Homo sapiens: one gene and its partners. The protein of the gene in region 1 interacts with the protein of each later gene in a pairwise test. Each region holds a gene or a part of one and is shown in the gene's direction. Other genes may lie near its edges.

Region 1 (3,500 bases):
TTCTCGGGATTTTTACCATATACCTGTGGGGTAGTCAGGGCAGATATAATGATTCCTATAATGATGGGAACCGAAGCTCAGTTACCTGACCTCACGAATAGCAGAGGCCGGAGTAAACCCAGGCCTCCTCTCAAAAGATCTTTCCCCTCTGCCCTGTGGAGCCAGGCAAAGCCAAGGCTCATGGAGGAGGCCTTAGCTGCTAGCAGGGCACTTTTAGAAGGATTTTAATGAGACAATTAATTTATTATTCATAGCAGTAATGCAAATATAAAATGAAGTCTCTTTTCACACATTGGATTTTGGGTTAGATTTATCATAGTATGTACATTGGAAACATGTTTATCTGTCAGGTGTTCAGTCTCATTCATTTATTCATTCAACAAATTCATTGCGCTCCATTTACATCCATGCCAAGCCCTGTTCTAGTTATTCTTTTTAATATTCAGTTCAGTTATTCAGCTTCCCATAGATGAAGCACACAGTGTGGCAGCCATGCCAGCTGAGCAGGGTCGACATCTCTGAAACTCTGAAGTCTCTTTTCAGTGGCTTTCTTGATGACAGCTGCACCCACTAGAGTCCCCAGAATCTCCCCAAAGAGGACACACTCGAACAATTCCTCTGCACTTTTACAAGTTAGAGAGTTATCTCCCAGCCACGACATCGTTCTCCTCCCTGGAGGACTCGGCAGGTCCGTCTGTAAAATGGAGGAGGTCTTCACCTGGAGTCAGGTGGCCTGGGTCCCACCCTGGTTCTTGGTTGGTTTCAAAAGGCTTGGGAGCTGAGCCCCACTTCCAAGAGGAAGAAGGGTCTAGTGTGTCACCATACCTGGGGCAGGAGTTGCAACCTCAGAGGAAATGAAGGGCCAAGGGGGAAAAGTGGAACCCCAAAATCCCAGTATGTGGAAGCAAGTGCTTCCCCTCTGTTCCTCCCCACAAAAGCTCCACCTTCAGCACCCTGGCCCCACTGTGTCCTTGTGTCCCTGTGCTCCTTCTTGTAAGTCCTCTCCTTTTTTGGTGGTGGAATGAATGGGACAGATGACCAGGAGTGTCTCTTGGGGTTAGGTACGTGGCCAGTAATAGTGTTATTTACCCAGAGCTTGCTGTGTGCCAGCACTATGTAAAGGACTTTGTAAATGTTATCCCATTAATTGTCCCAAGAAACGTGTTGTTTTTCCCTCTTTATGGATGAAGAATTTGAGGAGTTCACAGAGTTACTCAGTGCCAGAGCCAGGATGCAAGCCAGGGTCTGCCTGTCTCCAAAGCAAGCCCTTAACCGCATGGCAGGCTTTGTTCAAACGTGCTCCCAAGCGGAACCCCCAGTATGTCCAGCAGATCAAAGGGGAGCAGAGCTGCTTGAAAAAAGGTCGAGGAGACCCAGAGAGCCTTACGTGCATTTCACATTCCTCTGTGGGCCTCTGCAGAATGTTAGGGCGCCCCCAGTCACTGTTTTAAAACTCCTGGTCTAGACAGTTCCCAAGGCTTCATACAGCACCTGATTTGTCCGATTATACTCTAGGACCGAAAAATGGCTTCAAAAATAATTGCAAGCAAAGTCAAAGTTTGGAGAGCCTCTTGAGGGAACTTAAATACCGATGGCTTCTTTCAATTTATGTGCACATAAACATATGTTTCGGTAGCTGTGGATGCAGAACTTGGTCGTTCTCACGTATGACTTGTTGCCTAAAGTCTGGGAGGCATTTGTAGTTAGGCCATCCGGGCACTCCATCTCTCATTTAGTTTCTATTGCAGCTACACTGTGAGGTTGCTGTTGGGTCGGCCTCATGTTTTACAAATGGGAACCTCAACTCAGGGATGAAAGTGATTTGCCCAAGGCTACATGGTCATTAGTAGCTGACCACACTTTCCAGTGGGGTCTCCTGACATCCACTTCTGAGTTCTTCACCTTGTCAGAGCTGCCACAGCTCCTTGCTCCAATCTGCCCACGTGGGCTGATCTCAGTACGTAACTTCTCACCCTCTCTCCTGCTTAGAGACTTCAGCTCCCTTGTCATGGGCCTAGAATCAAGGCAAAGCCCTTCACTGAGTGTCTAGTATGCACGGTCTGACCCGACCCATCTCCCTGTCCACAGCTTTCATGTAACCGCCTTCCCTTGAGCCAACCGGCTTCCTAAACCAGGACTTCCAGGTGCAGAGGAGGCACCACAGGGAGAAGGAATGGGGTGGGCAGGAGCTATGGCCTGGGAAAGCCCCTCCTGCTGGGAAGAAAGGAGCTAGGGCTTGTTTACTGCCTCCGGTGTGTGCTGGGCACTTCCGAACTTTATCTCATTTAACACTGAGACCAGCTCTGAGAAGGTATTGTCATTTCTACTTTTATATGAGAAAAATGGGCCTTTAGAATTGTTAATGTACGTAAGGTCATAGAACTAGGAGACAAGAGCCTGGATCTGGAATTTGGACATGGCCTGGCCACGATCTTTCCACTGTACCATGCTGCCTTGGAGGAGTGAGGCCCCGCTCTCCTCTCTCTTTCAGTTCGCTGTCTGTTTCTAAACCGCCCTTCCAGCCTTCTCTTGCTCTTCACCCTCACTGAAAACATGTGCTGTGTCAAACTGATCACATCATTCCCTCCTAAAGCACCTTCCCATTCTCATCTCTGCCATTTCACTGCGGCTCCTTCTCCATCCTAGCCTCCTACCATTCCTTACCCCATTTCCAAACTCCTTCTAGTAAAATCCTGTCTCTCCTATCGGTTTTTAAAGCTCAATTCAAATATTACCTTGGCCTGTAAGCCGCCTCAGTTTACATAGCGTAGCAGAGAGAAGTTGGATTTAGAGTCAGAAAACCTTGCTTTGAATCTCAGGCTCCAGTTCTAACACCTTGGATAACACTCTTGAGGGGTTTTCCTCATCTTCTGTAATAGAAGAATAACGTTGGCCCTCCTGACGCACATGCGAAATCCTGTATGGTAAAACGCTTTTTCAAACTGGAAAACACTGTATTTCTGTTTTTATTACCCCATTCTCTCTCCTTCTCCCAGATTTAGGAGTTATCTTTTCTTTTTTTTTTTCTTTCTTTTTTTTGAGACGGAGTCTCGCTCTGTTGCCCAGGCTGGAGTGCAGTGGCGCCATCTCGGCTCACTGCAAGCTCCACCTCCCGGGTTCACGCCATTCTCCTGCCTCAGCCTCCCGAGTAGCTGGGACTACAGGTGCCCGCCACCACACCCGGCTAATTTTTTTGTATTTTTTTTAGTAGAGACGGGGTTTCACCATGTTAGCCAGGATGGTCTCGATCTCCTGACCTCGTGATCCACCTGCCTCAGCCTCCCAAAGTGCTGGGATTACAGGCGTGAGCCACCGTGCCCAGCCTAGGAGTTATCTATTCTTCCGATCACTTGGGCACTAAGTAATAACATTACTCTTTTCTGGCACTTACCATGTGATGCCTAATATTTACTTATTTTTGTGTGTGGCTTTATTGTGCTCAAGTCACCCTGCAGATCCTCCTCCGAAACTTAACAGCTGCCACATTGAAATGTGGTTGT
Region 2 (3,500 bases), on another chromosome or scaffold:
ATTAAAGGTTGTGTTTATGAAGCTATCCAGATATATGTAGTTATTGCCCCTATTCTGAAAGGCACCAGGCTATGTGCTACTTCACATTGGATTTGCCTTTCATAGGCTGCTCCCTCTTCTATCTACAAGGGTCTGCTGTCACTTCCTGTTGCTGTCTCCTGACTTGCCTATAGTGTAGTACCTCTGCCCTCTCAATCTCTTAATTTACCCTTAATCAAAACTTAATAGACCTGGGATTGAAATACTAGTACACTGATATAATAACAAATGAAGATCTGAGTAAATACATAGACATTTTCCAGTGCACTTTGACTACTCAGAAAACTTGACTTGGGCCAACTTTTTATAGCTTAACTGTTTTTAGATAGATGAAACTGATGGTTCCAAAGAAATGAGGTATTGCAACAAAATTTCAAGGTATGGTAAATAAAATCAGAAGAACTTTACATCATAAAAGTCTGGTAACATGTCAGTCTTTTCCCCAAATACTAAAAAAGAAGAGTGCAATGTTTCTCCGTATTTCCGAAGTTTCAACTCTGCGCCCCTCTGCTTTTTCCTCAGCCCATATTGACTCCTGTCTTCCCTGAAAGTAGCTGCATTGCCACACTTTATATTTTATTATATTTCATCCTCTAGTGTTTCATGTCTGTGCCCTAACTAAAATTGTAAGCACCCTAAGATTGTGTTATAAATCTCTGAATTTTTCCCTATACTGCCACCCTAGAACATTAAAGACCGCTTGATACCCAGGAAGTTCTTAATGGCCATTTGATTACTCAAATGTTAACATTTGTTTCAGCTAAATTTATTAAACTGTTTGATTGTCTCATACTGTGAAAATACCTGGATTTAATAAAAATTATTTTCAATTTATATTTCTTTAGACTACTATGCTGCCAGAAAAACACATAGTTCTCTGGGAGAGTAGATAAAGGAAGAGAGGGACTAAAGTCTAGTAACCTAATATAAAGGTTGCAAAAGACTTGATGTATTTTTCTATATATGAGGCTGAGTGGGTAGTGGAAATTGAATATAGAGCCTAGAATTTTACCTCTTCAAGAGATGGATTTGTTACTTATATTCCTTTGGTTTAGGAGTTGTGGTTTTTGATCCTTTTCTTCAGAAAAAGTTAGAATGTCTGAAAAGCCTGGACCTCTTTAACTGTGAGGTTACCAACCTGAATGACTACCGAGAGAGTGTCTTCAAGCTCCTGCCCCAGCTTACCTACTTGGATGGCTATGACCGAGAGGACCAGGAAGCACCTGACTCAGATGCCGAGGTGGATGGTGTGGATGAAGAGGAGGAGGACGAAGGTGAGTAGGCTCAGCATCTGGTGAACCTGATGTCTGCCTTTCAAAGCCTCTGATAAAAGCTATTGGATGTTGGCCGGGCGCAGTGGCACACAACCGTAATCCCAGCACTTTGGGTGGCCGAGGCAGGGGGCATTGCTTGAGCCCAGGAGTTTGAGACTAGCCTGGGCAACATGGCAATACCTTGTTTCTACAGAAAATAGAAAAAAAAAAAATTAGCCAGGTGTGGTGGCGCACACCTGGAGTCTTAGCTACTCAGAAGACTGGAGGCCGAGGTGGGAGGATCACTTGAACCTAGGAGTTTGAGGCTACAGTGAGCCATGATTGTTCCCCACTGCACTCCGTCTCAGAAGACAGACAGGGTGTCTCAAAAAAAAAAGCTACTAGATGTTCTTACTATTGAGGAAAATAGTGTGTGTTTGTGTGCGTGCGCACGCGTGTATTTTTTGAATGTAGGCATTCCATTAAATTTATAGCTAAGGCCTATTTCATAAGCACCTGGCCTCAAGGGATCCTCCCACCTCAGCCTCCCCAAGTGGTGGGATTACAGGGATGAGACACTGAACCTGGCCCGGGAAGCATTTCCTGAAGTCTACAAGCTAAGTTAGGATGCTGTGCGTTTAAACTGTAAACCGCTTGCTCTTACAGGCTTGCCACTCTGCTGTTCTTAAGTCTTCCTACTTCAGGGGTCTTCAACCCACAGGCCACAGACTGGTACTACTCCATGACCTGTTAGAAACCAGGCCGCATGAGCAGTGAGGAAGCCTCATCTGTATTTACAGCCACTCCCCATTGCTCACATTACTGTCTGGGCTCCACCTCCTGTCAGATCAATGGTGGTATTAGATTCTCATAGGAACGAGAATCCTATTGTGAACTGCACATGTGAGGGGGCTAGGTTGTGTGCTCCTTAGAAGAATCTAATGCCTGATGATCCGAGGTGGAGCTGAGGTGGTGATGCTAGAGCTGAGGTGGTGATGCTAGCACTGGGGAGTGGCTGCAAATACAGATTAACATTAGCAAAGAGGTTTGACTTTACAGAGATGATAATAAATCAATTGCTTGCAGACTCATCAACCCCTATCTGTGAGTGGCAAGTGACAAGCTGCATCTGGTGGCAGGCTTTATAGTGGCAAGTGAGTTGGTGTACTTCAGTTGTACAGCTGTATCTGGTGACAGGCTTTAAGTCAGAATCTGATGCTTTTTTTAGTCAGTGCATGGCCTGCCCATTTTTTTATTTACCACTTCCATCCACACCTCTTTCCCGCACTGCGTATTTGTCTCAGTCACAGTTTTGTTAGGCCCACAAGCTAACTATCCAACATGAGTAAAAAACGTCGCTGGAGAGCTTCTTTGAGAAGGGGGAAAGACCCAATAATGAGACAGCAGAAGACAAGACTGCCAATGAAAAGAAAGCTTCATTGAAAAGAAAATACCAAGAGTGCTACTTAAATTACAGGTTCATTGCAACAGATGATTCACATTCTCCAAGCCCACTTTGTATAATATGTGGCAACAAGCTATCCAACAAAGCCATGAAACCTTCAAAACCACTTCACTGGCTGGGCACAGTGGCTCATGCCTGTAATCCCAGCACTTACAGAGGCCGAGGTAGATCACCTGAGGTCAGGAGTTCAAGACCAGCCTGGCCAACATGGGGAAACCCTGGCTCTGCAAAAATACAAAAATTAACCAGGCATGGTGGTGCACACCTTTAGTCCCAGCTTCTCGGGAGGCTGAGGCATGAGAATTGCTTGAACCTGGGAGGCGGAGGTTGCAGTGAGCCGAGATTGTGCCGCTGTGCTTTAGCCTGGGCGATAGAGCAAGACTCCATCTCAAAAAACAAACAAACAAAAAAAAAACTGCTTCACCACTTGGAGACCAAGCACCCTGCGTTTAAAAGACAAGCCTTTGGAGTTTTTCAAAAGAAATAAACATGAACGTGAAAAACAGAGGCAATTATTGAAAGCTCCCACTTCATCAAATGTGACTGCACTGAGAACATCTCATTCTTAGTGGCTAACTGCATTGCTAAAGCTAAGAAGCCCTTAACTAACTGCATTGCTAAAGTAAGAAGCCCTTTACTATTGAAGAGTTGATCCTGCCTGCTGCTAAGGACATTTGTCATGAACTTTTAGGAGAGGCTGCAGTTAAGCTGCAGTTCAAAAGGTGGCACATGTTCCTCTTTGA
Region 3 (3,409 bases), on another chromosome or scaffold:
TACAGCTCACTGCAGCCTTGAACTCCTAGGCTCAAGTGATCTTCCCTCCCCAGGCTCCCAAGTTGCTGGGACTATAGGTGTGCACCACCATGCCAGCTAATTTTTTTTTTTTTTAATAGAGACTGGGTCTCACTGTGTTGTGCAAGCTGGTCTTGAACTCCTGGCCCCAGGCAGTCCTCCTTCCTTGGCCTCCTAAAGCACTGAGAATACAGGCATGAGTCACTGTCCTGGACCTTAGTGTTTTGGGGTGTGTGTGTGTGTGTGTGTGTGTGTGTGTGTGTGTGTAGCTATTATAAATGGGAATGCTGCTTTCTTGATTTCTTCTTGTTTGTTTATAGAAATGCCAATAATTTTTGTATGTTGATTTTTGTATCTTGCAACTTTACTGAAATTGTTTATCAATCCTGAGTTTTTTGTGGAGCTTTTAGGGTTTTCTCTTTATAAGATTTTGTCATTTGCAAACAGGGACAGTTTGACTTCCTCCTTTGCAATTTGGATACCCTTTATTTTTCTCTCTTGTTTCTTTGCTCTGGCTAGGACTTCCAGTGCTGCGTTTAATAAGAATGGTGAGAGTGCGCATCCTTATATTGTTCCAGCTCCTAGAAGAAAAGCTTTCGGCTTTTCCCCATTTAGTATAATGTTAACTGTGGGTTTCTCTTATATGGCCTTTATTATGTCGAGGTACACTCCTTCTAGACCTAGTTTGTTGAGGGTTTTTTATCATAAAGCGATGTTGAATTTTATCGAATGCTTTTTCTGCATCTATTGAGATAATCATATGGTTTTTGTCCTTCATTATGTTGGTGTGATATTTCACATTTATTGATTTGGGTATGTTGAACCATTCTTACATCTCTGGGATAAATCCCACTTATCATGGTGAATGATCCTTTTAATGTGCTGTTGGATTTGGTTTGCTACTATTTGTTGAGGATTTTTGCATGTATTTGCATCAGAGACATTGACCTATAGTTGTGTCCTTGTCTGGTTTCAGTAACAGGGTAATGCTGGCCTCATAGAATGAGTTTGGAAGAATTCTCACCTCTTCAGTTTTCCGGAAGAATTTGAGAAGAATTGGTATTTATTCTTTAAATGTTTGGTAGAATTCAGTATTGAAGCCATCAGGTCCTGAACTTTTTTTTGATGGGAGACTTTTTATTACTGATTCAGTCTTATTACTTGTACTTGACCTGTTCATGTTTTCTATTTTTTCTTGGTTCAATCTTGGTAGGTGGTATATGTCCACAAATTTATCAATTATCATTAGGTTTTCCAATTGGTTATTTTTAAAAAATTAGTATTATTATTATTATTTTTTGGAGACAGAGTCTTACTCTGTTGCCCAGGCTGGAGTCCAGTGGCACAATCTCAACTCACTGCAACCTCTGCCTCCCAGGTTCAAGCAATTCTTCTGCCTCAGCCTCCCAAGTAGCTGGTACTACAGGCGCATGCTGCCACACCCGGCTAATTTTTTTGTATTTTAGTAGAGATGGGGTTTCATTGTGTTGCCCAGGCTGGTCTCGAACTCCTGAGCTCAGGCAATCCACCCACCTCAGTCTCCCAAAGTGCCGTGATTGCAGGTGTGAGCCAATGCACCCAGCCTTAATTATAATTTTATTAAAAAATTTATTCCAGTAAATTTGACATAGGAACGGATGGTTTTGTAGAAAAAGTATAATTTACCAAATCACAACCAAATAAGGGTCATCACAGAAATGTAAGAAATGTTAAACATATGAAATGGTATCAATCTAATTCACCACATTAACAGATTATAGAAGTAAACCCATATGATCATTTCAACAAATGAATAACTTGACAAAATTCAGTATTTATTAATTTGAAAACATGTACTTGAGGCTGGGCATGGTAGTTCACACTTGTAATCCCAGCACTTTGGGAGGACGAGGCAGGTGGGTCACTTGAGGCCAGGAGTTCAAGACCAGCCTGAGCAACATGATGAAACCCTGTCTCTACTAAAAATACAAAAATTAGCCAGGCATGCTGGTACACACCCATAATCCCAGCTACTCAGGAGGCTGAGGCATGAGAATTGCTCAAACCCAGGAGGTGGAGGTTACAGTAAGCTGAGATCATGTCACTGCACTCCAGCCTGAGGGACAGAGTGAGACTCTGTCTCAAAAAAAAAAAAAAAGTAAAATAAATAAAAACATTTACCAAAGGATGAATATAATAGGATTTTCTTAGCTTTATAAAAGTTAATTACCAAAAAACAGAACTCCTACAAACATCATACTAATAGAGACTTTAGGAGCATTCCCGTTAAATTCAGGAACAAGACAAAGAGGACTAATGTTATTTCTGTTGAGCACTCTATTGAATTTGCTAGCAAATACAATAAAACAAGTAAAAGAAATATGATATAAGAATTGGAAACAAGAAATAAAATACTCTTAATTTGTAGGAATGTAAATTATCTACATAGGAAATCCAAAAGAATCAGCAAACGATAGAACTAATAAAATAATTTGGAAAGATTACTAGATGCAAAAGATATATGCGAAAGTAAAGTCCGTAGTGTTTTTGTCTATCAGTAATAACCACTTGGGAGGTGGTGGTTTTTTTTTTTTAAGTAAAAATAGTGAAATTTCTTTTCCTGATGTATCTAAACTAGGAGTTTCCTAATGAAATAAACCATCTCTGACCATTACTGCAATCATCCCATTGCTCAGCTTTATGAGACCCAACACCCCCTTTTGTAACAGATATTTTTAATTCTCCTTTACTATTTTGAAATGAATTTCATAGCTTAATATAATCTGTGTACATACATCTTTGAAAAGCATTAATTTAATTTAATATAAAGGCAAAAGAAAAACAAATTTATAATAATATGTGTTCTAACTTTGTAAATGTTAAAGAATAGCTATATCAGAAGATACAATGAAGTAACCATGTTTTTGCAGTTACTTTTAATGCATAGATTTGGATTTAAGAAAAACAAAACAACATTCAACTCATATTATCAACAATTTTTCTTTTTATTTAACCTGTAGAAATAAGGACTAGAAAAGTATATGCATATATATTAAAAAATTGCGTCTACAGCTGCCTATACAGACAACTATTGTTATGCGTATTGCTGCTCCAAATACAATGAGCAGCATTGATGTTACTAATGTGTTGCCCCAAACTATTTTTAAAAGAAAATTTTTGAAAAGTTTTTAAAAAATACAAAACAAAATCATCTTCAGTTTACATGATAGCTGCATACTTGTAAGTTTCAATTAAATATGTGCAAAACAATACTTGGAATTTATGAAAATGTATTTCAGCTCTGGTTTTAAATTTATAAACAGATCTTCCAAGTACATATTCCACCCGACTTTCAAAAATTTCACAGAATGTAGAAGAGTTCTTTATTGTGCAAGACTGGTTCATCCATTGC
Region 4 (3,500 bases), on another chromosome or scaffold:
TCTAATTAATCCAATATACAGTTTTCACTTTTCTGATTGGCACCTGATGAACATTCTAGTTAGATATTGGAGTTCATTGATTTTTAACAGTGCATGCCATATATTTTTGGGCAGTATGCCTGAAGTTATAACAATAGGATAGAAATATAAAATTAAATACGTGTTCTCTTTATATTTCTAATTTCTAATTCTGCCGGATTTCCTAAACAGAAGAGTAGTGATTTAGGAAGATTATCTTATGCAGTTATCTACATTTGCTCTTAATTGTGTTCTGGTCTTCCTAAAACATGGGAACATATGAAGAGCCTACATTAGCAGTAGTGATAGGTTATAATGATTCATTTATGTACATTATATTTCTGTAACCAAGTATGAATTATCCAATAATTGGTAGTCCCTACACGTAGAATCTGGTTTTCAGTTAATATTTTGAATATTTTCTCTTTCTTGAAAGATAATTTTTCTGCCATTATCTGCTTTGAGCAGCTGTGGCAAATTGAATCTAATGCACTTAGAGCTACAGTGTTTCTATCACTAAGGGAGACTTAAGCTAAAATATTATTTATTAATATATTTTCAGCTGTCTTCCAGCTGGAGAAGACTCTGATTGAATGATAGAATATCAGATGAATTATCAATGGTGTAATTAAGTAAAGGATGTGAATACTTTCTGACTGAAGTATAATCTAGAGTATTATTTCTGCCCTAATCCAAAATACATGAGTTATGTAAACAGAATCTATTTTAAAAATTTATTCTTGGGTCTAGCACAGTAGCTCATGCCTGTAATCCCAGCACTTTGGGAGGCCAAGGCAGGTGGATCACCTAAAGTCAGGAGTTTGAGACCAGCCTGACCAGCATGGCGAAACCCCATTTCTACTAAAAATACAAAAATTAGCTAGGCGTGGTAGCTGGTGCCTGTAACCCCAGCTACTTGAGAGACTGAGGCAGGAGAATCGCTTGAACCCTGGAGGCAGAGGTTCCAGTGAGCCGAGATTGTACTACTGCAGTCCAGGCTGGCTGACAGAGCGAGACTCCATCTCAAAAAAATATGTTTATTCCTTTATACCTTAAAAAAGTGAAATTTTATTATAAGAAAATGTTCTTATGCCACTTCTTTTTAATGTACCTGTTTTGCTCTAGGTAATGAAGACAATATAAAGAATGATACAAAGCCGCCATTTTTGAATAAGTGCATGTAGTTTTTGTACACTTGCATCTCTAACTCATCTAACTCTTGTTAGTTTTATTTATGATTTTCTAACTGTTAAATGACTTATATCTTGTATTCTTCCCCAACTAGAAGGAACATATATGAACAGGGATTTTCTTATACTGATTTTTTGTACCTTCATTTTGCTTAGCACAGGATTAGGAACACTGTGAGCACTTATTAATTATTTATTGATATAATGTGCTTTTCAATGTTCTATTTCAGTATGAGAGTTGAGGGGACAGTGTAAATTGTCCTAGCCAAGAAAAATGTAAACTTCAAAACATTAGACTTATTTTTAATTTTCTTAAAGCAAAGTTTTCTTTGTTATCTATTAAAATTTATACCAGATCTTTATCAGAAATTTGAATAAGTATTAAAAGTTCTCAGATTTAGAAAAGAGTCTACAAGTACATTTCTTTGTTTACAAGCAAAAGTTGAGTCAATATTAAAGCAAATTGTCTCCTATCCCAGTGCCTTATATAGTATGCCTATTTGCGCTTCTGAGTCACATATGTTTTTATAGTGTGTATGCAAACTGTAGAATAGGAAGCAGGTAGAGGATTTCTAGGTAAATGCATACCGTGACCTAATGCTTTTTTTGTCAGGACTTCTTCGTTGTCATTATTAGGTTTGAATTGTTAGCTGAAGGTCTAATAAATTGCAGTTTGTTTAACAGAAAAATTGTAATGAGCCCTACTCATAGAGCCAGTTTTTGATTATTTATAAGTGAATTATTTGGCAATCTTTTTTAAAAATAACTTTTTATTATGGAACATTTCAAACATTTACAAACATACCCATCATCCAGTTTCAGCAATTTATCAACTCTTTGCTAATCTTGTTTTGTCTTTATTTTAAATCAAATCTCAGACATAATTTAATAAATATTTCAGCGCTTGTCCTAAAATGTAAGAATTGTTTTAAAAGTCATAACCCCAATTTTATCATCACACATAAATTATTGGTAATGTTAGTAATGGTAATATTTTGATATATATATTATATGTGATAATTTAAACTTTTTTTAATTTTTAAAGATTGGTGTTCCTTTTGCAAAATTGCTGTATGTTTAAAATAATTGTAGGAGGATCTTCTCAGCCCAAAAGCTTCTTAAGCTGATAAGCAACTTCAGCAAAGTCTTGAGATACAAAATCAATGTGCAAAAATTGCTAGCAATCTTATCTACCAACAACAGTCAAGCTGAGAACCAAATCACAAACAAACTCCCATTCAAAATTGCCACAAAAAGAATAAAATACCTAGGAATCTAGCTAACAAGGGAGGCAAAAGATCTCTACAAGCAAAACTATAAACCATTGCTCAAAGAAATCAGAGATGACACAAACAAATGGAAAAACATTCCATGCTCATGGATAGGAAGAATCAATATTGTTAAAATGACTGTACTGCCCAAAGCAATTTATAGATTCAATGCTACTCCCATTAAACTACCATTGACAGTCTTCAGAGAACTAAAGAAAACTACTTTAAAATTTATATGAAACCAAAAAAGACCCAAATAGCCAAGGCAATCCTAAGGAGAAAGAACAAAGCTGGAGGGATCATGCTACCCAACTTCAAACTATACTACAGGGCTACAGTAACCAAAACATCATGGTACTAGTACCAGAACAGACACATAGACCAATGGAAGAGAATAGAGAACCCAGAAATAAGACCACACACCTGCAACTATCAGATCTTCAACAAACCTGATGAAAACAAGCAATGGGGAAAGGATTCCCTAGTCAGTAAATGGTGCTTTGATAACTGGGTAGCCATATGCAGAAGATTGAAACTAGACCCTTTCCTTACACCATACACAAAAATCAACTCAAGATGGATTAGAGACTTAAATGTAAAACCCAAAACTATAAAAACCCTGGAAGACAACCTAGGCAGTACCATTCAGGACATAGGTGTCGGCAATGATTTCATGACGAAGACGCCAAAGGCAATTCCAACAAAAGCAAAAGTTGATAAATGGGATCTAATTGAACTAAAGAGCTTCTACACAGCAAAAGAAACTATCAGCAAAGTAAACAGACACCCTCCGGAGTGGGAGAAAATTTTTGCAAACTTGTATCTGACAAAGGCCTAATATCTAGCATCCATAAAGAACTTAAACAAATTTACAAGAAAAAAACAACCTAATTAAAAAGTGGACAAAGGATATGAACATCTACTTCTGAAGAGAAGGTATACATGCAGCCAATAATCACATGAAAAAAACTCAACATCACTGATCATTAGAAAAATGCAAATCATAACCACAATGAGATAC
Region 5 (3,500 bases), on another chromosome or scaffold:
CGTGCCTTAGGGGGTTTTTGGGGATGTGTCCCAGGCGTCCTTTATTGTCCTTCTCAAAGAATTTATCTCTCTTGGCCAGGCACGGTGGCTCATACCTGTAATCCCAGCACTTTGGGAGGCCGAGGCGGGTGGACCTGAGGTCAGGAGTTCAAGACCAGCCTCACCGATATGGTGAAACCCCATCTCTCCTCAAAATACAAAAATTAGCCGGGCGTGGTGGCGGGCACCTGTAATCCAAGCTACTCGGGAGGCGGAGGCAGGAGGATTTCTTGAAGCCGGGAGGCAGAGGTTGCAGTGAGCTGAGATTGAGCCACTGCACTCCAGCCTGGGTGACAGAGCGAGACTCCATCTCAAAAAAAAAAAAAAAAAAAAAAAAAAAAAAAAAAAAAAAAATTATCTCAAGAGTTCCTTAAACCTCTTTTATCTAAAAGTTTATCTTAGATGACAACTTTCTTGAGATACTTTCTTACTGTGTGTGAAGTGACAGTTTTTGGTTTGAAGTTAATTTGGCAAAAATTTGGCTGTGGTACAAACTTGGTGTTCCCCATGCATTGTGGATTTGGATTTGTCATGCTTTTTAGTGTTAAAGATGACCCAGGCCTGCCTGGATTCTGGAGGGAAGTCTACTCTCAGCACTTCCTATGAACAGACTTGTTAGTTATTTGTTTGTTTTATCCTGCACAGTTAGGCTAGTTTACTGCCCACTCGTGTTTGAACCTGAAGGTAACTTTAAGGCACAGCCTTCGGATTTAAGTGCAGAAATGTTTTCTGCTAAAAATAGCATACATTTATGCAAAAAATAAACATGCTACTATCTTCTTCAGTATGAAGATGGAACGTAGAGTTTACGCCTCTTCACAGCCAGAAGCTGCTAAAGACTAACTTTTGGCAGAGACTGTGTAGAGGTATAAATAAGCCGTGACTCCTAGCCTGCCATGTCCCTCACTTGTCCTAGGAGAGAATGTAGAGCATAAAAGCCCGCATGGTAGGCTGCTTCGTTTGATAGTGATTTTTTGCTATGAGTAGCAACATAGAGCTGTGCCAGCCTGGAGGCCCCAGGTCTCCTTTGGCTTTCTTTGCAGAAGCTGTTTGTGTGGCAGTTCCATCAGTTCTGGCCAGCAAGTCCCTAGCTTCTTGCCAGCACGATATTAAGATGCTTCTAAAACCCTAATGGGCATCATCAGTTAGCAATGTACTTATTTTCTGTTCTTTAGTGAAGTGATGTCTGGTTATTCGAAGCATTTGCATTTCTAGTGAGAGAAAGTGAATTACCCCAGAAGTCTTCCCTCCCACCTGCCCCCAAGTCTATGGACTGTGTGATGTAGTTACATAGATCATGATATAGCTTACAGTTCAGCACAGGCCCTTGCAAATTTTATTTTAGAATCCAGTGAGAAGAAAAGCATTGTTGCCTCCCAGCCCACCCTCCTGCCCACCCCTGTGGGAACTGGCGAACCTATCTTTCTTGATAATGGGACATTGCTGTAACTTGGTTTCCAGGGGTCTGCTGGCCGGATGCGAAATAACCACATCCATGTACTACACTTGTGCTCTTCTCTTGGGTCTGATTCTGGGCTGCTGTGTACCATTTGTTCTTTCCTTCCTTCAGGCCTCTGTAGTGAGCTGTTCCACATCTGGTAAAGAGAGGCCTGTCGATGATGAGGATGGTAGATAAATGGATCAAAACTGAAGTTCTTCCCTGACAGTGTCCCCTGAAATTGGGTTCCTTTGCAGTACACCATTTTGAATTCTGAAGCTATTAATATGGGAAGTTCAGGGTATTAAAAAATAGATAAATCAGTGCCATATAGTCTTACTCCTCACTTGGCTTGGTGTGGATATACCAGGGTTGGCAGTTATCTGCGTTTTTTTTCTCCCTGTGTCTTATTTCTAACTTTAGTCCAACGAGAGTTTGGGGTTGATGGTCGTCACCGGGGAGGAAGCAGAGTCCCTGAACTGATCCTGGGTCCGTATCGGTGCCATTCCGTGTTCTTGGTAGATTTTCAGAATTCCCAGATAATGGTTCCCAAAGTTTTCTAGCTTCTGGTCATGGAAGGATGCCCAGAAGACGTCCTAGATCTTACATACTTAAACCTGTCTCTGTACCACTGCTAAGAGTCCCGTCACATCCAAGCTGTCACCTAGGTGATGTATCCCTGTTACTGCCTTCCATATTTACTGTGTTCTCACTTGTAAAACAGAGCAATGTTTGAATGCTGGAGACCTCTGCCATGTGGAATTTGAAAATGTCGGGTGAGGATTTCTTGAGTTGACTGAGTGGTGTTTTGCTACAACCTGTAGAGCTTTGTGACCTGGTTTCACCTCATGGCTCTGAGGGTTCCAGAGAAGGGAAAGGTGCCCCTTGACTGAGGACGCAGTGGCAGGTCATCTGCCTGTCCTGGGTCACTGCCCTGAGGTGCAGTCAGCTCTCCCGCCCTGTTATTCAGGAGTCTGGTTCCTGCTATTTAGAGGAGACCAGTCAGCATTTTTCCCCCGTTGCGTCCTTTCCTGTCTGAAGATCACATCTGTCATGCTGCTGTCTCTCCTTTTCTGTGACTGTCTCTCCTCTTGCTGGTGCTCCCTGGTTGTCCCACGGTGGAGGAACCCACCCTGTCAGTGTTTTGCTTACAGCCCTCATGCTCTGAATGGAACCCATTTCTGTCGCGGGTATGATGGTGCACAGTTCAGTAGTAGGTTGCCTGCTCTCTGATTTTATTCATCAACCAATTTCTTGCACATTTAAAGGAAATTCAGAGGGAACTCATAATATGAAGGGGAAGCTTTTCATTTTTCATGTTTTTTCTCATAATGCTGTCAGTTGTTTTAAATGCATGTCTTTTTTGTGGGTCTGTAACAGTGTCTTTGTGCTTTTTCTTGCTCTTATTTTATTAGGTCGTGGAGTCAGATTTGAGTGATGATGGCAAAGCATCTTTGGTGAGCGAGGAAGAGGAAGATGAAGAAGAAGATAAGGCTACCCCTAGAAGAAGCAGGTCTAGAAGAAGTAGTATTGGTCTTCGAGTAGCCTTTCAGTTCCCCACCAAGAAGCTGGCCAACAAACCAGATAAAAACAGTTCTTCCGAGCAGTTGTTTTCTAGCGCACGCTTACAGAATGAGAAAAAAACAATTCTTGAAAGAAAGAAAGACTGTAGACAGGTGATACAAAGGGAAGATTCTACCTCTGAGTCTGAGGATGACTCTCGGGATGAGAGCCAGGAGAGTTCAGATGCTTTGCTGAAAAGGACCATGAACATCAAGGAGAACAAAGCCATGGTGAGGCTTCACGGAGGGCGTCCTGGGAGTTGGCACCAGGCTCTGGCAGCAGTTGCTGGGCTCCCAGAACCACTTTGCTCCTACAGCTGCTGCTGTTGCTTTGGCTTCTGTCAAGAAAATATACTCTGGGTATTGTGTATCCTTTTACTTTTCCAGAACCCAGAGCAACTATTACATGATCAGCTCTGGTTTGGGAACAGAAAGAGATTCCCCAGCACCATTTTTAGCCC
Region 6 (3,500 bases), on another chromosome or scaffold:
CCACTTTGTCCTTGCTGGGCAACCGGTGGCCATGTCCTTATCCCTGCTCATGCTCAGTTTTCTCATCTATAAAACTGAGGTCATAAAAATGACCTCCAAGCATGTAAAATGTTTAGCATAGGCTGGGCTCCTAGCAAACACTGTTTTATTTCTTTTATTTATTTATTTTTGAGACAGGGTCTCACTCTGTCACCCAGGCCGGAGTGCAGTGGCATGATCTTAGCTCACTGCAACCTCCACCTCCCAGTAGCTCACTGCAACCTCCACCTCCCAGGTTCAAGTGATTCACCTGCCTCAGCCTCCCGAGTAGCTGGAATTACAGGCGTGTGCCACCACGCCCGGCTAATTTTTATATTTTTAGTAGAGATGGAGTGTCACCATGTTGGCAAGGCTGGTCTCAAACTCCTGGCCTCACGTGATCCACCCGCCTCGGCCTCCCAAAGTGCTGGGATTATAGGCACAAGCCGCCACACCTGACCTGCAAACACTTTCTGAATGTTGCCTTTGAATATTAGCCTACTACACATTTTCTACAACACTGCTGCTAATGCCACCTATCTTCTCTTCTTTACCACGGTGGTTCTCAAACCTGGAGGGCTTGAAGAATATGCCAGTGTTTGATCCAGTAGCCTGTTGTGGGGCCTGAGAATCCGTATTTCTGGCAAATTCCCAGGGGGAACTGATGATGTTGGGCCAAGGACCACACCTTGAGAATCACAGCTTTAGAAAATAATTGTCAAACTGAGTTGGAACTGTGAATTTTGCATAGAATTTTTTTTTTGCCAGGGGAAGAGGGGTGATGACAGGGTACTGTCTTTATTTAAAATGTTGATAGTTTGTTTATCATGGATTTGGGGGGCATTAATTTGGGTTTTTAAAATATTTACCTTTTAGGATATTAGTTGATGACTGGGTTTTGGTGCCCCCTTAAATTTTACACCCAAGGTGCGTGCCTCCATTGTTTGACCCTAGTTCCAGCCGTGACTGATAACCCAAATATTCCAAAGGTTAAGGGTGCTGTCAGAAGTTGAAAATTTCTTCTTAGTGAGGCATGTTGGCTCACAAATATAATCCGAGCACTCTGGGAGGCTGAGGCAGAAGGATAGCTTGAGGCTAGGAGTTCAAGACCAGCCTGGATAACATAGCAAGACCCTATCTCTACAAAAATGTTTGTAAAAAGAAATAGCCAAGTGTGGTGGCACGTGTCTATAGTCCCAGCTACTCAGGAAGCTGAGGCAGGAGGATTGCTTAGTCTAGGTGTTCAAGGCTGCAGTGAGCTATGATCATACCGCTGCCCTCCAGCCTGGGCAACAGAACAAAACTCTATCTAAAAAAAAAATTTTAAATATAATTAATAAATATTTTAAAACATAAAATTTCTTCTTTCCTATGTGTGTCTTCACTGTATACCTCTCAAAGTAAAGTACTAAAACCTATGTTTTACAGTATAAGCCGAGCCCAGTGGCTCATGCCTGTAATCCTAGCACTTTGGGAAGCTGAGGTGGCTGGATCACTTGAAGTCACCAGTTTGAGACAAGCCTGATCAATATATTCATAATAAGTACAAAAATCATGCCACAAAACTGTGTGCTATGTTTTTATAAACAAATTTATGTGTGGAAAAAAAGGTAACGTCTCAAAATATTACATGTATGTAGAGATATAGAATTACACGTTTTTTTACCTTTTCAAATATATTAAAAGTATAGACATGCTTTTAAAAAATTATTAGGTTTCTAATTACATGTTAATACAGATGATTTGGAAAATGTAATGATTTTTGTACTTATTATGAACACTTTCCATGGCAATGAGGGTTTTTCTACAGCAACATATATTAATATGTATAATACATATTAACATTCATTAATGAATGTGAATGTACTGTAACGTGTTAATTATACTCTGTTAATCAGGCTGTTTCCCAATAATGCTGTCCTGAGCATTTTACCCATAGATTATTGAAAAGATGTAAAATGTATGTGATGTATACACATTGCCACAGAGAATGGAGTTTCCATTCTTGCCCTCAACATACATAAGCGACTCTTTCCCAACGTCATTTTCTATTATCTATATTCTAGTTAGTGATTCTGCCTTTTATTTGTTATGAATTTAAACTGTCCCAAATTCATGTAGTTATTCCTTTGTTCTAGCATTTGAATACATCTGCATCATCTATTTTAGCTATATATTTCATTATTTTAGAGCCAGATTTCTAATCTGTTTTCAAAGAGCTGCTCTCTTCCCCCATCCATCAATTTAGTTTAATTTCTCAAGCCTTGGTATATTAATTTTCTATTGCTGCTATAACAAATTACCACAAACTTAGTGACTTTAATACAACACAAACTTATTACCTCTTGTGGGTCACAGGTTCAGCATGAGTCTCCCTGGACTAAGATCAATGTGTCAGCAGCCTGCATTCCTTTCTGGATGCTCTAGATAGGAATCCCATTTCCTTGTTCATCCTGGTTCTCAGCAGAGTTCAATTTCTTGTGTTCGTAGAAACAAAGTTCCCACTTTCTTGCTGGCTGCCAGTGGAAGGCTGTTCCCAACAGTGTTCTTTGGCTCATTGCCTCCCCACCCCTACCCCTTGTTCCAACTTTAAAGCCAGCAATGACAGGTACAGTCCTTCTCATGTTGTGTCTCCATGAATCTCTCTTTTGCGTCTTCCTCTTCCACGTTTAAGGATGCAGATGATTAGACTGGGCCCACCTGGATAATCCACTATAATTTCCCCATCTCAGGGTCAGACAATTAACAGTCTAAAATTCCTTTTGCCATGTAATATAACATATTCAGAGGTTCTTGGATTAGGATATGGACATCTTGTGAGGAGATGATATTCTGTCCACCACACTTGGTAGCTAGAACTTTTCATAGGTGCATATGGTTGTATCATAAAACCTTAGGAAGCTGTTTATAGGGCTCACCTAATGGTCCAGTTTATTAGCCTGCTTGTCCATAGTCTGTCAGGTGGGTTTTTTGGAGAGACATATCCACTGACGCGTGCCTGACAGCATTAGAGTGCGCCACACTCCAAGGCACATTTAGATTACGCTCTCAAGGATACATTTTCTTACCCCTATTGCCTGTCTTCTGCCCATTCATTTCCTATACTCCTGTGTCAGGGAGAGCCCACACCTGTATAAATGGACATATTTCACTTTGTCTTTCCACACTGTTTAGAAATGCCCATTATGACTGGCTTCTTTCATCTATTTCTTTCGACGTCCTACATCTTTCCGTTTTCATTAGTAGGTAGGCCTTTTCATCTCCAGTCTCTTCTTCTTCTCCTAAGTTACTCCACCCAAAGCAAAGGGCCCCACCTTATAGCTTGTCAAGCAGCAGACAGTGGGTATAATAGATAGAAGCCTTGGCTAGGAGTACTATTTTGTGTATTAGGATTTGGAATGGAGGAAAGGCAAATGCTACCACCACACTTGAGTTCATAACAGCACAGCTCTCATCTCTTCTGTTAGCTTATGTTTCTGTGG
Region 7 (3,500 bases), on another chromosome or scaffold:
AATATAGCCTCGGTTCTGAGCCAGGGATGTGCCTGGCACAGCACAGGGTAAAGCCCAGTCTGGGGCGCCTCTGGGCTGTCTGATTCTGTCTGGTGTAGGACTCCTGTGTGGCACAGAATCATCTTTGTGGCATTTAATTTTAAGAAATGATTTAGTAAAAATTAAAAAGTCACATATATACATGGTAAAAGTGACTCATACCTGTCTCAGTGTCTCAGCACTTTGGGAGGCCAAGGCAAGAGGATCACTTGAGGCCAGGAGTCTGAAACCAGCTTGGGCAACACTGTGAGACTTCGTCTCTTGAAAAAAAAAAAAAACATTAGCTAGGCACGGCACAGTGGCTTACTCCTGTAATCCCAGCACTTTGGGAGGCCGAGGTCAGAAGATCACCTGAGGGCAGGAGTTCCAGACTAGCCTGGCCAACATGATGAAACCCTGTCTTTACTAGAAATACAAAAATTAGCTGGGTGTGGTGGCATGCGCCTGTAATCCCAGCTAACTCAGGAGGCTGAGGTGAGAGAATCGCTTGAAACCGGGAGGCCGAAGTTGCAGTGAGCTGAGATCGTGCCACTGCACTTCAGTCTGGGCCACAGAGCGAGGAGACTCCATTTCAAAAAAAAAAACAAAAACTAACAAAAATGGCGTTGGATTGTGGGCTGCACTGTGTTGGCTGTAGATGAAGAGAACATGGCAGGGAAGGCAGCCCAGAGGGGCCCCGAGCCAGGCCTTACCCTGTGTTTTCTCTCACTCTCCTGAGTGAGCTGCTGGGATACCGGATGTGGGACAGGCAATTGGTGTCAGGACGTATCCCAAGCCCTTGAGCTGGGCCAGAGGGTCTGTCTGGTTTAGGACCCCTGTGTCAGCTTTGCCTGTTGGCTGCTTTGTGACCTCTGAGACGCTTTCCTTCCTGGTGTGTTTGGAAATAGCACTGCTTAGTCTAGTCTAGGCTGGTTCTTCCTGACCCAGCAGTGCCCTGGGGCTGGAAAAGCCCTACACCCTACCTGTTCCCTGCCCCAGGCAGGACAGCACTGAAGTCACAGTGAACAAAAAGAACCTCCTCCTCTGTACCCCAGCACCATGGCTCTCTGTAGAGCAGCTCGAGGGCATCTTGGTCACCATCCCTCATTAGGTCAGTTGCTACCAAGGCACTGTGAAAGCACTGCAGAGCTGCAGCCCATCAGGGTCAGAAAGGGACACAGGAAGACTCAGTTCTCTGGACATGAGTCTTGTATGTGCCACAGGCAGAGGGCTGGGAGGGGGCGGGGAGGGCAGGATGCCTGGGGATCAGAGTGCAGAGCCCATGAGGAGCACAGGCTGCACACCAGCTTCCAGGCCCAGCTCTGGCACAAATGAGTCTGTGTAATTCTGGGCAGGCGTGACCTCTGGGTCACTTTTCCTTAGTCTAAAGTGCGTTTTGTGATTTGCATCAACTCATTGGCGTTTTGGTGGCAAGAAGTGGCATGCCCACTGCAAGCCGTGTGCCTTCCCTCTGTGTCCTCCTAGGGAGAGCTGTTGCCTCCCTCTGTGTCCTCCTAGGGAGTCAGGGCCAAGGTGAGCCTGGCAGCGCAGGCAGTCTCATCTGCCACCTCCCGACTGACTGAGTGTGGGGGATAACACCACACCTTCCCTGTCCTCCACTCACCAGAGCAGGAGGGTGGGTGGGAAGAGCCCTGAGCCATAGCAGGCCTGTGTTCTGACGTCGTTTCAGATGGTGGAGAGCATGAAGTACCCCTTTAGGCAGGGCATGCGGCTGGAAGTGGTGGACAAGTCCCAGGTGTCACGCACTCGCATGGCTGTGGTGGACACAGTAATCGGGGGTCGCCTACGGCTCCTCTACGAGGATGGTGACAGTGACGACGACTTCTGGTGCCACATGTGGAGCCCCCTGATCCACCCAGTGGGTTGGTCACGACGTGTGGGCCACGGCATCAAGATGTCAGGTTAGCAGAGCCCCAGGCCAGAGGGACTGCATGCTGTGCTTCCCCAGGGACGGAGTGGGAGCACCTTCCTACTCGTCACAGCAGGTCAGCAGGTGGAGGTTGGCATGGCCCCCCTGCAGTGATGATACTGAGCTCCAGAGAGCTTGAGTAACTTGACAAAAGTCACTCCACTCAACTTGTGAGTGGTAAAATCAAGATTTGAACCCAGATGCTACCAGCCCCGATCCTCTCCCCTGTCAATGCGGGAGCAGTCTGGGTTTCGAGGGCTGAAGAGTCCCTACAGAGAGCTCTTGATGTTTTCTGGACTCAACCTTTCTGTCTGCTACTCTGGGGTGGGGGGTCCTGAGATACAGAGATACAGCTGAGAACACGTGCAGAGCAGCCCCACATTCCCAGGGGAGGCGTGTGGAGATGGCCCAGGAGCCGCCTCCAACTCCCTTCTCTCCCTCATTCCCTATCCATCTCCTCCAAAGAGAGGCGAAGTGACATGGCCCATCACCCCACCTTCCGGAAGATCTACTGTGATGCCGTTCCTTACCTCTTCAAGAAGGTGAGGTTCAGCTCTTGGGCGCTTTTCCCCTCAGCCATGGGTCCATTCCGGGCCTGAGGGACCTGGCTCTTCCCCTGGGACCATCCCTTTCCCTCCTGAGGCCTGCTTCCCTCACCCTTCCTCCTGGCCTGCCCAGGGAGTCCCCAGCTGTCCCATTCCTTTAAGGTACGAGCAGTCTACACAGAAGGCGGTTGGTTTGAGGAAGGGATGAAGCTGGAGGCCATTGACCCCCTGAATCTGGGCAACATCTGCGTGGCAACTGTCTGTAAGGTGAGCCAGGGGCCGGCTCTCCAGCCTCCAGATTTCTGAGCGGGGGGACCCATGTGGCCCAGAGCTCTAACCCCACTCGCCACCGTCAGGGGGTCTGTGTCCCAGCCTCTCATCACTGGCTGCACCCAGAGTCCCTGACTTTTGTGAGTGGGGCCTGGCCTGCCCCTTGCTCAGAATCTGCTTTCGTGTCAGGGTCCAAGGCTCCCTGGACGAGTGCTTATTCAACACCTGAGCCTGGTCCTGTGTCAGAGTAGGCCCCTCCCTGTCACCTCACTGGGGCCTTCTTGCTGTGTGCCATCTCCTTTGAGCGCTGGCCTAGGCAAGAGCCACAGCTGGGGTCACCTTGCTCCAAACCTCATCGCCTCCTCCTGAGCAGCACCCCCACCCCTCCTTGGCCCTCCTGGAGGAGGCTGCTGACTCGTCCTCGCCGCGGATCCGCTCCATGCCGGGCGCGTGTGCTCACCCAAGAACACGGTCCAACAGGATGGACGCGGCCCCTGCTGGCGTGGTGTTTGCTGTCTAGTGGGGAAGAGAAAGAATCCCACGCGTATGCATCACAGAAGTACTGTGTGCCCCAGAGAGGCTCAGGTGTCCTCCAGGAGGGCCATGCCCTAGATCCGTTTGGATCCATTTGCCTCGTGTCCCTATTGGGGTGCGGTACCAACCCAGGATGGGGTGCAGTTCATGATATGATCTGTCTGCCTGCTCCCCCCACCCCCCAGGTTCTCCTGGATGGATAC

What was found.
Region 2: the proteins of BEND7 (region 1) and ANP32B interact in binary tests that used the Homo sapiens proteins (3 or more experiments, as listed by UniProt).
Region 3: the proteins of BEND7 (region 1) and EAF2 interact in binary tests that used the Homo sapiens proteins (3 or more experiments, as listed by UniProt).
Region 4: the proteins of BEND7 (region 1) and CEP44 interact in binary tests that used the Homo sapiens proteins (3 or more experiments, as listed by UniProt).
Region 5: the proteins of BEND7 (region 1) and CDCA7L interact in binary tests that used the Homo sapiens proteins (3 or more experiments, as listed by UniProt).
Region 6: the proteins of BEND7 (region 1) and SMARCA2 interact in binary tests that used the Homo sapiens proteins (3 or more experiments, as listed by UniProt).
Region 7: the proteins of BEND7 (region 1) and L3MBTL2 interact in binary tests that used the Homo sapiens proteins (3 or more experiments, as listed by UniProt).

The regions. Positions count from the first base shown.
Region 1 is NC_000010.11:13,519,015-13,522,514, reverse strand, and holds part of BEND7 (BEN domain-containing protein 7), read left to right. Parts: intron 1-3,500.
Region 2 is NC_000009.12:98,003,841-98,007,340, forward strand, and holds part of ANP32B (acidic leucine-rich nuclear phosphoprotein 32 family member B), read left to right. Parts: intron 1-1,123; coding exon 1,124-1,313; intron 1,314-3,500. UniProt on the Homo sapiens protein: Multifunctional protein that is involved in the regulation of many processes including cell proliferation, apoptosis, cell cycle progression or transcription.
Region 3 is NC_000003.12:121,880,209-121,883,617, forward strand, and holds part of EAF2 (ELL-associated factor 2), read left to right. Parts: intron 1-3,409. UniProt on the Homo sapiens protein: Acts as a transcriptional transactivator of TCEA1 elongation activity. Acts as a transcriptional transactivator of ELL and ELL2 elongation activities. Potent inducer of apoptosis in prostatic and non-prostatic cell lines.
Region 4 is NC_000004.12:174,304,411-174,307,910, forward strand, and holds part of CEP44 (centrosomal protein of 44 kDa), read left to right. Parts: intron 1-3,500. UniProt on the Homo sapiens protein: Centriole-enriched microtubule-binding protein involved in centriole biogenesis. In collaboration with CEP295 and POC1B, is required for the centriole-to-centrosome conversion by ensuring the formation of bona fide centriole wall.
Region 5 is NC_000007.14:21,907,900-21,911,399, reverse strand, and holds part of CDCA7L (cell division cycle-associated 7-like protein), read left to right. Parts: intron 1-2,892; coding exon 2,893-3,270; intron 3,271-3,500. UniProt on the Homo sapiens protein: Plays a role in transcriptional regulation as a repressor that inhibits monoamine oxidase A (MAOA) activity and gene expression by binding to the promoter.
Region 6 is NC_000009.12:2,186,347-2,189,846, forward strand, and holds part of SMARCA2 (SWI/SNF-related matrix-associated actin-dependent regulator of chromatin subfamily A member 2), read left to right. Parts: intron 1-3,500. UniProt on the Homo sapiens protein: ATPase involved in transcriptional activation and repression of select genes by chromatin remodeling (alteration of DNA-nucleosome topology).
Region 7 is NC_000022.11:41,222,312-41,225,811, forward strand, and holds part of L3MBTL2 (lethal(3)malignant brain tumor-like protein 2), read left to right. Parts: intron 1-1,708; coding exon 1,709-1,940; intron 1,941-2,413; coding exon 2,414-2,490; intron 2,491-2,655; coding exon 2,656-2,760; intron 2,761-3,482; coding exon 3,483-3,500. UniProt on the Homo sapiens protein: Putative Polycomb group (PcG) protein. PcG proteins maintain the transcriptionally repressive state of genes, probably via a modification of chromatin, rendering it heritably changed in its expressibility.